Homo sapiens: one gene and its partner. The main gene of each other region encodes a partner of the protein of the gene in region 2 in a complex. Each region holds a gene or a part of one and is shown on either strand. Other genes may lie near its edges.

The links.
Region 1: PPFIBP1 (region 2) and ERC1 share a complex: the UniProt entries of both Homo sapiens proteins name them as parts of the cortical microtubule stabilization complex.

What each region holds. Positions count from the first base shown.
Region 1 is NC_000012.12:1,491,197-1,496,435, forward strand, and holds the end of ERC1 (ELKS/Rab6-interacting/CAST family member 1), read left to right. Parts: 3' UTR 1-4,735; downstream 4,736-5,239. UniProt on the Homo sapiens protein: Regulatory subunit of the IKK complex. Probably recruits IkappaBalpha/NFKBIA to the complex. May be involved in the organization of the cytomatrix at the nerve terminals active zone (CAZ) which regulates neurotransmitter release.
Region 2 is NC_000012.12:27,519,854-27,527,209, forward strand, and holds the start of PPFIBP1 (liprin-beta-1), read left to right. Parts: upstream 1-4,352; 5' UTR 4,353-4,512; intron 4,513-7,356. UniProt on the Homo sapiens protein: May regulate the disassembly of focal adhesions. Did not bind receptor-like tyrosine phosphatases type 2A.

The sequences.
Region 1 (5,239 bases), about 26 Mb from region 2:
CAAGAGGCTGCCTGCCTTGCCAGCACCCGTGTCCTGAGCTCCTGCAGCCCAGTGGCTGCTGAAGTTGTGATCCCTCACTCACCCTGCTAGCTTTGCCCTTGACTCGTCTTCTCTGAACCTCAGCCTCGTGCATTGCCTGGAACCTTCTTCTAGCATAAATGAAGGTTTTTCCTCCTACACACATTCCTTCCTCGGTTATTTCATTCAGAGAATATTTATGAAATGCCTACTGTGTGCAAGTCATCCATCCTTGAAAAGGCCACTTCTCAGTGAGGGAGAGATGTAGTGGATTCTGTGAGACATACCTGCTGGAGTTGAAGCAGTAAATAGCATGTCCTTCCCCTCCCCGATCTTAAGGTGTGTTTTCTAGAAAAGTTCCCTAATGGAATTCATGAGTTTGGGGGTCTCAGTCACCCGCTTGCCTGTAGGATTCCATTTGATGATTCTGGATTTTTGCTGTTTGTTATTGCCCTTAGAGGGGCTCTGAGTATCTACTTGTGGGTGGCCATTTCCTGACATCTGCATGTACCTCGTGGAATTCAGCCAGCTTCATGTTGCAAATCAGAAAGCTGACCCCAAGACTGCAAATCAATGAAGGTATTGGCATTGTTAAGGACGTAGCGTAGACAACAGCAGTCATAAATAATTAGGCAGGAACTTAACCCAAATCTAGTTCTTTGACCACCTCTACCACCAGAACCCAGCAGACACTCACATCTCCTGATAAGAGTTGCTGGACTCGATGTTTTTGTTTTGCATTTTCTCCTCTCCTTCCCCACTTACTCAGAGAATTTAAAGTCTGTAGAGTCAGCACAGCCCCATCAGTCCAGGAACTTCCCACCACCAGCCCTTGACTGTCCCATTAACTGACATGGTCAGATTTCCAGCTCCCCCTACTCCCTGCTGTGAAACAATCCCTCTCCCTGTGAGAGGAAACTGTGGAGCGTTTCTTATCGAAGGTTAAATGGACTCTGCTCATAAACCTCTTACTGAGATGCTTCCTGATAGCCAGGCTGGCCAGAGAGGGGTGCAGGGGTTAGATAGTAAGTGGTGGTCGTTTGTGGTCAGTTACCTCAATTCTGTTCATTGCAGTGCCCGTAAACCATGTAGAAAGCTCCCAGCACTGAAAGGCAGGAGTGTTAGCATCTCGCTTTATCCACCATAACGTAAAGAACTGCGGTGTGATAACAGCCTTCACGGGGCCACGGTGGAACCAAGACAGCAGGCGAGGCCATGCCTAAACAAGTGGTCTGGCACGGGCACTGGCCAGCTGCTCTCTCCAAGCAGGTGGCCCAGATCCCACCCACGTGGACTTTCTCATCAGGTGCAGCGCCTGCCACTCTCAGCCACTGGGTGTGTCACTCTCCTCTTCATCTCAGCATTCTCCATCACTTCCCCTCCAGAAAAACGGATGGAAGGAAGCCCTCTGTGACACTGCTTCTGAGAAGAAGCATTTCCGGGACCGATATCATCTGTCTGGTCTCTGTGAACAGCAAGGAATCTTCTTGACCGTTCTTGGGCACTGGAGGCTGGCTAGGAGTTCAGTAATAAACGTGGCCTTCGTGCTGTAGGGCAGAGTGGATGCAGTTTGTAGCTTTCAGAGTGTCTCATTGAGTCTAGATCATTGAACCAACACTTAACCAAATGTCCCACTCCCATCACACTAGGACTTGTCATTCCATGCCCCTCTCCTAGTGGTCATGGTTTCATATGGGCATACAACTGCTACTGAAGTTATATAGCCTTGAAAACTCAGTGCAGGTTGCCCTTAATTTTCCCCAAACCCCTCCATCGGCAAGTCTAGTTGCCCTTTAGCACCTAAAGATCTGCACCCCAAACCAATGTCACCATAAAGAGGGCACGAAGAAGAGTGGGTGTGATCCCAACGGGGTTTTGTAACTGAAGAAGCCCAGTGTGAGCTTCTCATCTTTTCATATACCTCTAACCCCCGGTACTCATTGAATCATTGATGAGGTATCTCAATTGAGATTTGCAAGGACTTTGATACCATTTGAAATGGAAAAATTTTGAACGGGCTTTAACATGTTTAAGAAATATGGATGGGGCCGGCCACAGTGGCTCACGCCTGTAATCCCAGAACTCTGGAAGGCTGAGGCAGGCGGATCACCTGAGATCAGGAGTTCGAGGCCAGCCTGGCCAAGATGGCAAAAACCCCGACTCTACTAAAAATACAAAATTAGCCAGGCGTGGTGGCGTACGCCTGTAATCCCAGCTACTCAGGAGGCAGGAGAATCGCTTGAGCCTGGGAGGCAGAGGCTGCGGTGAGCCGAGATCGTGTCACTGCACTCCAGCCTGGGTGACAGAGACTCCATTTAAAAAAAAAAAAAAAAAATATATATATATATATATATATATATATATGGATGGGAATCACCAAATTCATCTCAGCTCTAACCTTTTAACCTTTGTCCTTGCACTTTACAATCTAAAGATCTACCTGTGGCTCTCAGACTTCCTCACACTTGGGTTTTAGAAATAACTTGTAAAGCAGACTGGACCCAAGGCCGCCTTCAGTGTCAAGAAGGGCATTGTGACTTGCCCCTCAATTTCTGTCCATTGAAGTCTGGTTTTCCATGAGGAACTTGCGGGCTCACCCACCCCCAGAGTGAGAGAAGAGGAAGGCGAAGTCATCACAGACACGGTCTTAGCCACCTGCTGAACTAATCCCTCCGCTATTGAGGGTCAGGGTTGTGAGGCAACCATCATGTGTCACCCCAAAATATAAATGTTTCTGAGCCGCCCATCCACTGGCATTTGGATTTGCTGCCAGAGTCCTGTTCCTCCCAGAACCATCCCGCCCTCCTGTTGACCATGTTACTTGAGTGTAGGCCCGGTGTCAAGACCCTCAGAGTCTTTGAGGAAAGAGCCAAGCAGAGAAGACCGCTGCGTGGAGTGTGACACCACATGGCATTTCTCAAGCCCAGCGGACCCTGTGTCAGCAAATACCAGTAATTTAACATCTGCTCCTGGCCTCCTCTTCACCTGCCTGGGTTCGGAACTGAGGAGGAAGGATGAGAAGAGACTGCAATGCAGCAGGCACCCTCTGCAGAGTGAGGCCGCCCGTCCATCACTGCCAGCCCTGGGCTGCTCAGGAGGGGACGTGAACCACTCAAAGGAATGTCTTAAAGAGGATCTGGAGTTTCCCCCATGCAAATTAGGGAAGAATTAGGCAAGAAAAGACATACATTACAGGGAAATCCTTCTGAACAAAATGGCTGTCTTCACCTACTCTTCTTGCAAGAAAAGACATACATTACAGGGAAATCCTTCTGAACAAAATGGCTATCTTCACCTACTCTTCAGCAAAAACCGTCTCCAGACTTTTTAGTGTCAAAAATGTAACCAACTGTCTCCTGATTTTTTCCAATGTGTTTGGCAAGTGCTGTGGCCCTGTTGTAGGTACTTCTCCTGACTCTTGGGGGAGAAGTGGTTTTAGGGATTGATTTGGGGGAGCGGGTTTTTGTCCCATCCCACCTCCTCTCTTCTTTCTCTGCTTGTCGATATTGTCTGTGTGATTCAGAGAATTGGGGCAGTTACATTGTGTCTGTTGTTGAGATTATTAAAAGATTAAAACGTAGTTGTAGAAATGAAAAATTAAACAGCTGTGTTTTAAAAATGCAAACCAATATCTTGTTAATAAAGGAATTCAAGCTATGGGGCAGCCACACTCCCCTCCTCCCAGGCTGGCATAGGTGGCCCTGGGCTGGCGGCTTAGGAAGCATGGAGCACACTTAGGGTAGTGCCTGCCTGGGCAAGAGACACCTGCCGAGCAAAAGGAACGAGAATCTGGGGCTCAGAGCCTCGCAGTTGTGCCAGGATTTTCCTATACATGTTCAGGACCTCTGGGTAGAGGTTTCACAGTTTGTGACCCCATAACCACCCTCACCCGACGTGGGTTCTAGCTCAGTGTGCCTAATACTGCATGGTAACCTGGGCTTGACCCTGAAGCCCCTGCCTGGCAGGCCACAGGACCTCTCCTGCCCACTTGGTGCTATCTCTTCCAGTGACCACCCAGCACGGGTGAGCACTGGCCAGCCTGGAGCCTGCAATCCAGGTGGAACAGACTGTCCTCCATGTCAGTTCCTTCTGGCTTCAGGCCCTCAATTATTTCCCTTTGAGCTTTTTTAGACCCTAGATCTCCTAGGCCCAGGCTCTCTCTTGACCCCAGAGAAGCCACTGTCAGGAAAGGAAGTGAACCCTACTGAAGCCAGAGAATTCACCCCGGCCAAAGCAGGCCCTCTGGGTCCAGCCCCTCATTCCACACCACGCCAGTATTGCATCCATCTACTGCAGCTACACATCCTGAGGGCAGCACCACCCACTCTGGCCTGCTGGCCCATCGCAGGACTAGCCCAGGCACCTGCCGGGCATTGCAGGATATCCAGTGGGGCCTGTGACTGCTCCCTGATGCGTCAGAAGAGAAGTGTTGCACTTTAGTGGAGGAGCTGAGGAGCACCTGCCCCCTTGTAGCTTGAGTTCCTTTTGGTAACAGTAGCAGCCTCCATGGTGGTGTCTGGGATGCACGTGCACCCGCTGCCTTCAGCTGTATGTGTGTGTTCCTGCTGGAGTTGTGTTACTGACAGGATAATGACATTACAAAGAAATTGTGTTATATTCAACTTTGCCTTGATAATTATTGTAAACACTTTGTTCATTTTTTCTTTTTTATTCACAAACTAAATCCACCAGGAAATTATAAAGTTATTTAAAAACCGTGCTGTGTCCTTCTTTGAGTGTCACCCAGCTGATCATCCAGGCAAGGTGTGTCCCCAAATGCTAGAAAAGATGGACAAGGTCTGCAGTGCCCAAGAGGCCAACTCCAATGGCAGGCAGCCCGAGGGCCAGGGGTCCCAGGATTTACGGTGGGTGTGGGAGTCATCACAGCCCTGACGGGCATGAGCCTCCTTTCCCTTCCCGCCTGATCTCCGGGTTTGCAGCTTTTAAAGTCAATTCCCGGTTCCCTTTTTCCTTCTTTCTACCCTCAGCCCCGGGCCAGGTTATCCGTATCAGGTCTCACTGTTCCAGAGCTTAGAGTAGGTGCCCAGCGCTGAGGGATGGTGCTGCTGTTGTACCAAGGTAGAAGAGCCAGAAGGGCGGCCACCAAGGGAGGGCTTTGCCCAGGACTGGGACTCAAGCTTCAGCAGGGCGCGTTCTGATGCACTGACTCTGGGGCGTGCAGGCTGGGTCAACAGAAAGTGTGTGTGCCAAGAGTAAAAGG
Region 2 (7,356 bases):
CAAGCCTGCTCAGATTTGGGGATGGTGTAACTAAAGAGTCAGCTTGTTCTGTTACTGCAAAGGGCAGAAGTGAGAGTGTAAATTGTGGACAATCAATGCTTCAGACACAGAAAGACAAAATAGGTTTGGAATCAAATAGACCTTGGTTTCAATCCCAGTTCTGGGGGAATCTGGAGCAATTTACTTGTATAACCCTGGAGAGTGATTCCTCATGTCAAAATGATGCTAATAACACTTACCTTACAGGATGTTTGTGAGGATTAAATGAGACACAAGACAGATGTCTTTGGGGAGAAAGTCAGTAAAGCAGGATCCAGATGGATATGAGAAAGATCCCTTTTTTTTTTTTTTTGAGATGGAGTTTTGCTCTTGTTGCCCAGGCTGGAGTGCAATGGTGCGATCTCGGCTCACCGCAACCTCAGCCTCCCAGGTTCAAGCAATTCTCCCACCTCAGCCTCCCGAGTAGCTGGGATTACAGGCATGCGCCATCACGCCTGGCGAATTTTTTTTCTATTTTTAGTAGAGACGGGGTTTCTCCATGTTGGTCAGGCTGGTCTCGAACTCCTGACCTCAGGTGATCCGCCCACCTCGGCCTCCCAAAGTGCTGGGATTACAAGCGTGAGCCACCACGCCCAACCGAGAAAGATCTTTAATGGTGGGCTGCTTGCTTATTTTGTGTGTTACTGGTTGCCAGATAAGTTCAAGCAGGGGTTGGAAGCTACCTGTAAGGAATGCTGAAGAAGGGTTTCTTGCATTTTAATAGTGGTTGCATCAAATGACTTTTAGGATCCATTTCAAGTTCTAATTGAGCAGGTGTTCTCCTGCTCTGCAGTGTCTCTTGCTCCCTACCCCGCAATAGTGATACTCTTTGGCAAAAAGTTACCAAAGGTAAGGTTAGTCATAGGAATAACTAGGCAGAAAATATCTAGACCTACAGAATAAATTAGCGTTGAAATCATAGGAATCATAAATGATCATTTGCACTAAGCCAGCCAGGAGCCGGGATAGTGAGGAGTAAGTTCTGGCTACCTGCTCATCAGGCATCCTGTCTTGCTTCTGCTGCACTATCCTGATTTTTTTGGAGTTTCCCCAAGACACCCAGAGGCCAGTGATTTCAGTATGTTTATTTAAGGGTTACACTGTCTTCAAAAAATGAAGTATCATGGTGAAGCCTAAATGTAGAGCAGATAAAAGAGCTGTAACTCTGGTTAAAGGGAGGTAGAAGGAGGCTGAAATCTCAACCATTGGTTCCTCCCTCACCCACTCTGTAACCTCTAGCTTGAATGTTACTGCTCCAGACCTGGCCCGTTTTCAGCCTTCCCTTTGAGTCTTTTGTTTTCTGGATTCTGGATGGCAGCTGTTATCACTCCAGCTGCAGAAAGGATGGGAGGCGACTTCCTGTTTTTCTATCCTGCCATCTCTGTGGGGGTGGGACATTCCCTCCCCCATCTCCTGTGGCTGGCTGTAGTTTTGGAAAAATGTGAGCCTGGCTGCAGCCGTCCTGACTAGGGCTGGAGGAATGGCTGGTAGCCACCCAGCCTCCGTTTGAAGGCATCTGGGAGCAAGGCAGGCAACAGACACTGATGGACAAGTTGTGTCCCTGACTGTGGGACAGGGAAGGGTCAGTAGTTAATTAAGAGACAGGTGAAGTAGTTGGTCCAGAAGTGATCTGAGGAAGTTAAGGGTGTTGAACGAACGGTGGGTAGGGGTGTGGGAGAACAGAAGGGCTCTGGCCCTTCTGGCATAAAAAGAGAGAAAGAGAGAGGAAAAAAAGAACAAGAAGAAACAGTTAAAGTTTTTGTCTGAGAGATTATTTGGGGATAGACTGCATTTAAAGAATGGAAGAGAATAGAAATGATACAATGATCTATTTTCTCATGCCCTATATTTTTATTGAGCCTTTTCCTTGAATTGGGTATAAGGAATATAAAGAGGTCCTATAAGCAAGATGCTTGCTCTTCAGAGTTTGGGAAGGCAGGAAAGGCATTTAACTGGACATGTATAACCACATGTTTACACATCTGTACAATCTCAATCCTTATAACAACCTTTAACATAGGTATTGTCAGCCCTATTTTAAAGAGGAGGTAACTGAGATTCGGGATGGATGTTTTAGTGACTTGCCCAAAGTTACCCAATAGCTAAGTGGCAGAGCCAGGCCAAGAACCTTGAGTCCTTTTCTCTGTCCACTGTAACACACAGCTAAGTCTTGGCAGAGGACAAGGACTTTAATTTAATTAGGCTTTGAGAGAAGGGTGGGACTTAACCCACAGAGGAGTGGGGATTTCGGTTAGGCTGAAAGGTGAGAACGAAGCAGGGATCTGTGAGTAGACCTGTTTGACTACAGAGAGGGTTTCCTGGGAGCGAAGTGGGAGATAAGCTGGGAAAGGTAAGAAGCAGGATAAGAGAGAGTTTTAAATGGCTAGATAAGAATTGCAGGGAAAGGGGGACCTGATTTAGAGGGGAAGATGTTGATGACAAAACCAAACATTTTAGAAAACTCATCGGTAGTGAGTGGTACAGAGAAATAATTAGAACTGGGGGAAACTGGAGTCAGAAATTCAAGTCAGGAGTTTGGAATACTGCAGGTCTGACAAGCAACAAGATGGTAATTATATAAAGTAGGTCTGTGAGAGCAGTGGCCCAAGCCTGTGGATTTCTTGTAGCATTCTATTGTTTGAAAAAGTATAAATTATGGACACTCAATACTTGAGATATAGAAAGAAAATCAATGGCTTTGGAGTCAAATAGACCTCGGTTTCAATCCAAGTTCTAGCTGATTTGGAGAAATTTACTTACATAACTTTGCTGAGCCTTTGATTCCTTACGTTAAAATAGGGCTAGTAACACTCAATTTACAGGATGATTGAGAAGATTAAACAAGACACAATGCTGGATTCTGTGCATCCCTCTACAATTTTTGGCAGATCGGTAAATGTATGGCATGTCATCAATCAAAAAACAATGAGGCCTGGTGTGGTGGCTCACGCCTGTAATCCCAGCAGTTTGGGAGGCCGAAGAGGGTGGATCACCTGAGGTCAGGATTTCGAGACCAGTCTGGCCAATATGGCGGAAACCCCGTCTCTACTGAAAATACAAAAATCAGCCGGGTGTGGTGGTGGGCGCCTGTAGTCTCAGCTACTCGGAGGCTGAGGCAGTAGAATCACTTGAACCCAGGAGAAGGAGGTTGCAGTGAGCCAGATCATGCCACTGCACTCCAGCCTGGGTGGCAGAGTGACCTGTTTAAAAAAAGAAGAAAAAAAAGAGAAAGTTATTAATTCACTATATTTTTAGAAGATGGTGGGTTATATGCTACCTATATCTCATACAAATAAAGCTGCTTTTCACCATTCAGGTCTGCCTGTAAGCAGCATCTGCCTTGAAAGAACCATTTTCTGAGAATCTTTTTCTTCTGTCAGCCAAGGGGATTATACCGCATGATATCTGTCAAGGATAAACGTTAGTTAATTCTTAATTGAGAGCTCAGCCACTACAATTGGTTCCATTCTACAGTAATTATTCTCATGTGGTTTGTGGAACTCAATTGTGAGGTCCCTCCTTCCTCCACCCTTTTCAGTGTGTGCATTGAAACAGCAGCCTTAAGGTCTTTAAACGGGGAAATACATTTTTCTTGCTTCAGAGATTCAATTTTACTTGCCCGAGAAGCTTGTGTGGTGTGATTTTCATCGCTAAAAGCAACAGCAGCCACATGGCTGACAACACCACCACTTAACAATTCAAAGCTCGGTCACCGTTTTCAGGAGTCTCTTCCAAATCTTTCTGAAGTGCTTTTGAAGTTCTACATTCCCCGTCTAAGGGAACACCCAGCAGTCCCAGGATAAAAGGGCAGAAGGGTGAGCTGACGTTTTCCTTTATTTGCATGGCTTAAAGCTAGCCATTTTCTACACCACGCGCCGCCGGGCTTGTACATGCCCGTGTGCCTGTGACACCGAGGCAATTGTTTCTCCTTAAAAAGGGGGTTCGCGTGGGTTAGTTTCGTTTCTGATCTGGAATCTCAGTAACTACAACAAGAAAAGTTTAAAACTCGACCCGCCAGGTTCTTCCCCATCGGATTATCTCCGTTCCTTAGAGATAGCAGGAAGGGCAGCATTTTCTTCCATCCACCCACTTCCAGCCCTAGTCTGGCTCAGCGAGGAATGCATAAAATTAGTGGACTCCTCTGAGTGACGTTCCCCGGCTCCAATCAGCGGGCGCGCAGGCGCCCCCGGCCCCGCCCCACTGCTGACTCTCTTTGGCTGATTCCTGCAGGGAGGGAGGAGAGAAGGGCGGCAGTGGGAGGGGGAGGTACCTGGAACTGGGAGTGATGTCAGCTCCCAGCTCGGTGCCTGCCCGGATTCCTGACATGGTGTAGTGCAGGCAGGGTGGGGAAAGGACGGGGAAGGACTCGTGTGCTGCGAGCTGGCGGCCGGGCCGGAGTGCTGGGGCTTTGAACTCCGAGAGGAGGTGGACCAGAACTTTTGGAACTAGTGCCGGCGGCTCTCCACCCCCCAGGTAAGGGCGTTTTGCTCCACTCCCAGACGGGAGGGAAGTGGCACCGTTGTGTGGCTGCAGCTGGCTGTTGCAGCTGCTCCTCCTCTTCCCCGGGTCGATTTCCTTGTGCAACTCACTCCTGTTTCCCAATGGGAACGGGCACTTTTTGGGGGTGGTGGGGGTGGAGGGGTAGGGCTTAACTCCTGGGGCTTGGACCGAGCTTGTACGTGAAGAATACTCCAGGATTGGACGTTTAGGTCTTGTCTGTATCCTTAGACCCCCACACCCTAGGCTCCCGGTAATACCTGAGAACCCCAACCAGAGGGGCGTGTGTGTCTCTCTGTCTGTGTGTATTGAGGCATTTAAAAATGCCACAAAAAATTATGGATCATCGACTCAAAAATTATGCTCGTTGAAAAGAAAAAAAAAGTTTTGTATTTTTTTGTCTCCTTGTGGCCTATTATATATTAAAAGAATATCAATGTTAGTCTTATATATCAATGTAAAATATCCTTTTGTGTAATCCAGTCAGGATGTGAGAAATTCACTTGGGGTGTTTATTAATTATGAGCTTGCGGGAAAACTCGTCTCTTGGGGGCACACTTCTAAAACTGCAACTAGTATTCACTCATTTTAACCGAGAAATCCCTTCAGCTGCCAGCTTTATATCTGGAGAGGTTAGGATGGCTGCTGAGAATCTTCAGATCTGTTTCCTGTGGCTGCTTGAGGGGCGAGCTGGTAGTTGTGTTTTCAGGGATCTTTTTTAGAGAAGGGAGTTTTAACAGGGAAACGCGGTGGAAGGCGTGGCATATAAACTCTTAATTATAGGGACGTGAAGTTTTCAACATGTGGGACCAAAACAAATCCTTGCTTTCAGTAAGAACTGCGGAGAGCAATAGAAAAAGAACTTGATTTCAAAGTCCAAGTTTGGTATTTTGAGAAAGCAATTGCGGGAGGAAAAAGATACTTTTAAGAAGTGAAAGAATAGAATTCTGATTTTTGTTTATTTCCTATTTCAAACCCTGTCTTTTTCCTATGTGGAGATTTTGTGTGCCCAGGTCACTAACTGGGTGTGATTGACTTTCTCGAGGGGGCGGGGAAATTGACTCCATACACCGATTCAGGACCCTCTCATCAGTGCTTTAAGGCTCTCTTTTGGAGCAGGAAGGAAAAAAAAAAAAAAAAAAAAAAAGTAAGCGCTGAGACTCCTGAGTCAAGTTTCCCCTTTCCTTCACCGAAGTTCCTCCTCAGCAGTGAGGATCCTACTGTTGCCAGGTCTGGAGGAAATGGGAGTGGACTTCATTGTGAGTCAAAATCCGTATCCCAGGCCCCTGAAGGGAAAAGGCATTTCCAGGAGATGGAGAAAGAAAGAAGCCACAACAGTAGGTCTAGTAAACCCAAGTCAGGAAAAGGGATAGAGGACTATAGATGGGGTTCTCTATCTTTCTAGCCAAATGATCATTAGGTTTCAGAACTAGAAAGAAGTGTTTGGTTGTGCTGTTGTTTATGACATACCTGGGTCTGTATTGTTGTTAGTTCCTGAAAAAATTAAATAGAGTGGATAAAATAGCAGGCTTTTTGAGAAAGGAAAATTCGCTTTATTGGAAAGACAACATTTTAATTTTGGTTTGTATTTTGGCTTAAGACACAGAAATTGCAAATGGCTCTGCAATAATGGTGAACAAGTCTTTTCTATTTATGTTCTATGGGGAGTACATAAAACATACTGTATTTTCCAGTGTACTTTTTCAGTAGGATAGAGCTGTGGAGTGGAGTTCCTGTGGGCTAATGTGAACTCACGGTAGTGTTCCTTGGCTGATAGTGTTCCAACTGCATTTGTAATACCAAAAGATGGGGCTGCAAAAGCCAGACGGTTCAGTAAAGAAGAGTATCTTTAGGATGTTATCCTTATGTGCCAAATTCAGATTTACACTTTCTTTCCAAGAAACTAGTCCTAGTTTAGGGACTTGAATATACCAAAACTCTAAATTTGATTCACAGTTTGAATAATAGCAGTAATTTTACATACTTAATTTAAACCAATATTTCTCTTTCTCAGTCCATGTTTATGAGGCAGATATGGTGTAGGAAAACACGGAATACTTAAAAGATGTTTGAGTTATTGAGAAAGGTAGGATCAGTTTTTGGTTAAATTCCTGTGACCAACAACTGTCATATTTCCAAGAGCAACTTTAAAAATTAAGGTCGGCCAGGCTTGGTGGCTCACACCTGTAATCCAAGCACTTTAGGAGGCTGAGGCACGCAGATCACCTGAGGTCAGGAGTTGGAGACCAGCCTGGCTAACATGGTGAAACCCCATTTCTACTAAAAATACAAAAAAATTGCCGGGTGTGGTGGTGGGCACCTGTAATCTCAGCTACTTGGGAGGCTGAGGCAGGAGAATCGCTTGAACCCAGGAGGCGGAGGTTGCAGTGAGCTGAGATCTCGTTATTGCACTCCAGCCTGGGCGACTAGAGCAAAACTCCATCTCAAAAATAAATAAATAAAATAAAAATTAAGGTCATCTGGCCTTAATGGATAAATGTTGATTTGAAATCCAGGACACACTGAAGTTCCAGATCAATAGTGCCTAATTTCAAGGGCATCACTGACATTTTTTTGGGAACAAGTTCACCGAGGGACAGTTAATTAACTGTTTATGTAGTCTTTTTGTAGCTCCCTGTTCCACCGTGAGATAAATCAGAACAAGGTCATTTTTCCCCTCAGTTACTGACTAGCTGACTTCTTTTAAAACCTTTCCTATTCATAAAATATTTGTATAAGTAAATTTAGATTATGTTGATAATTTGTTACATTAAAATTAACTTTTCGTTTATATCCCAAACCAGCATAATTTTCAAACTG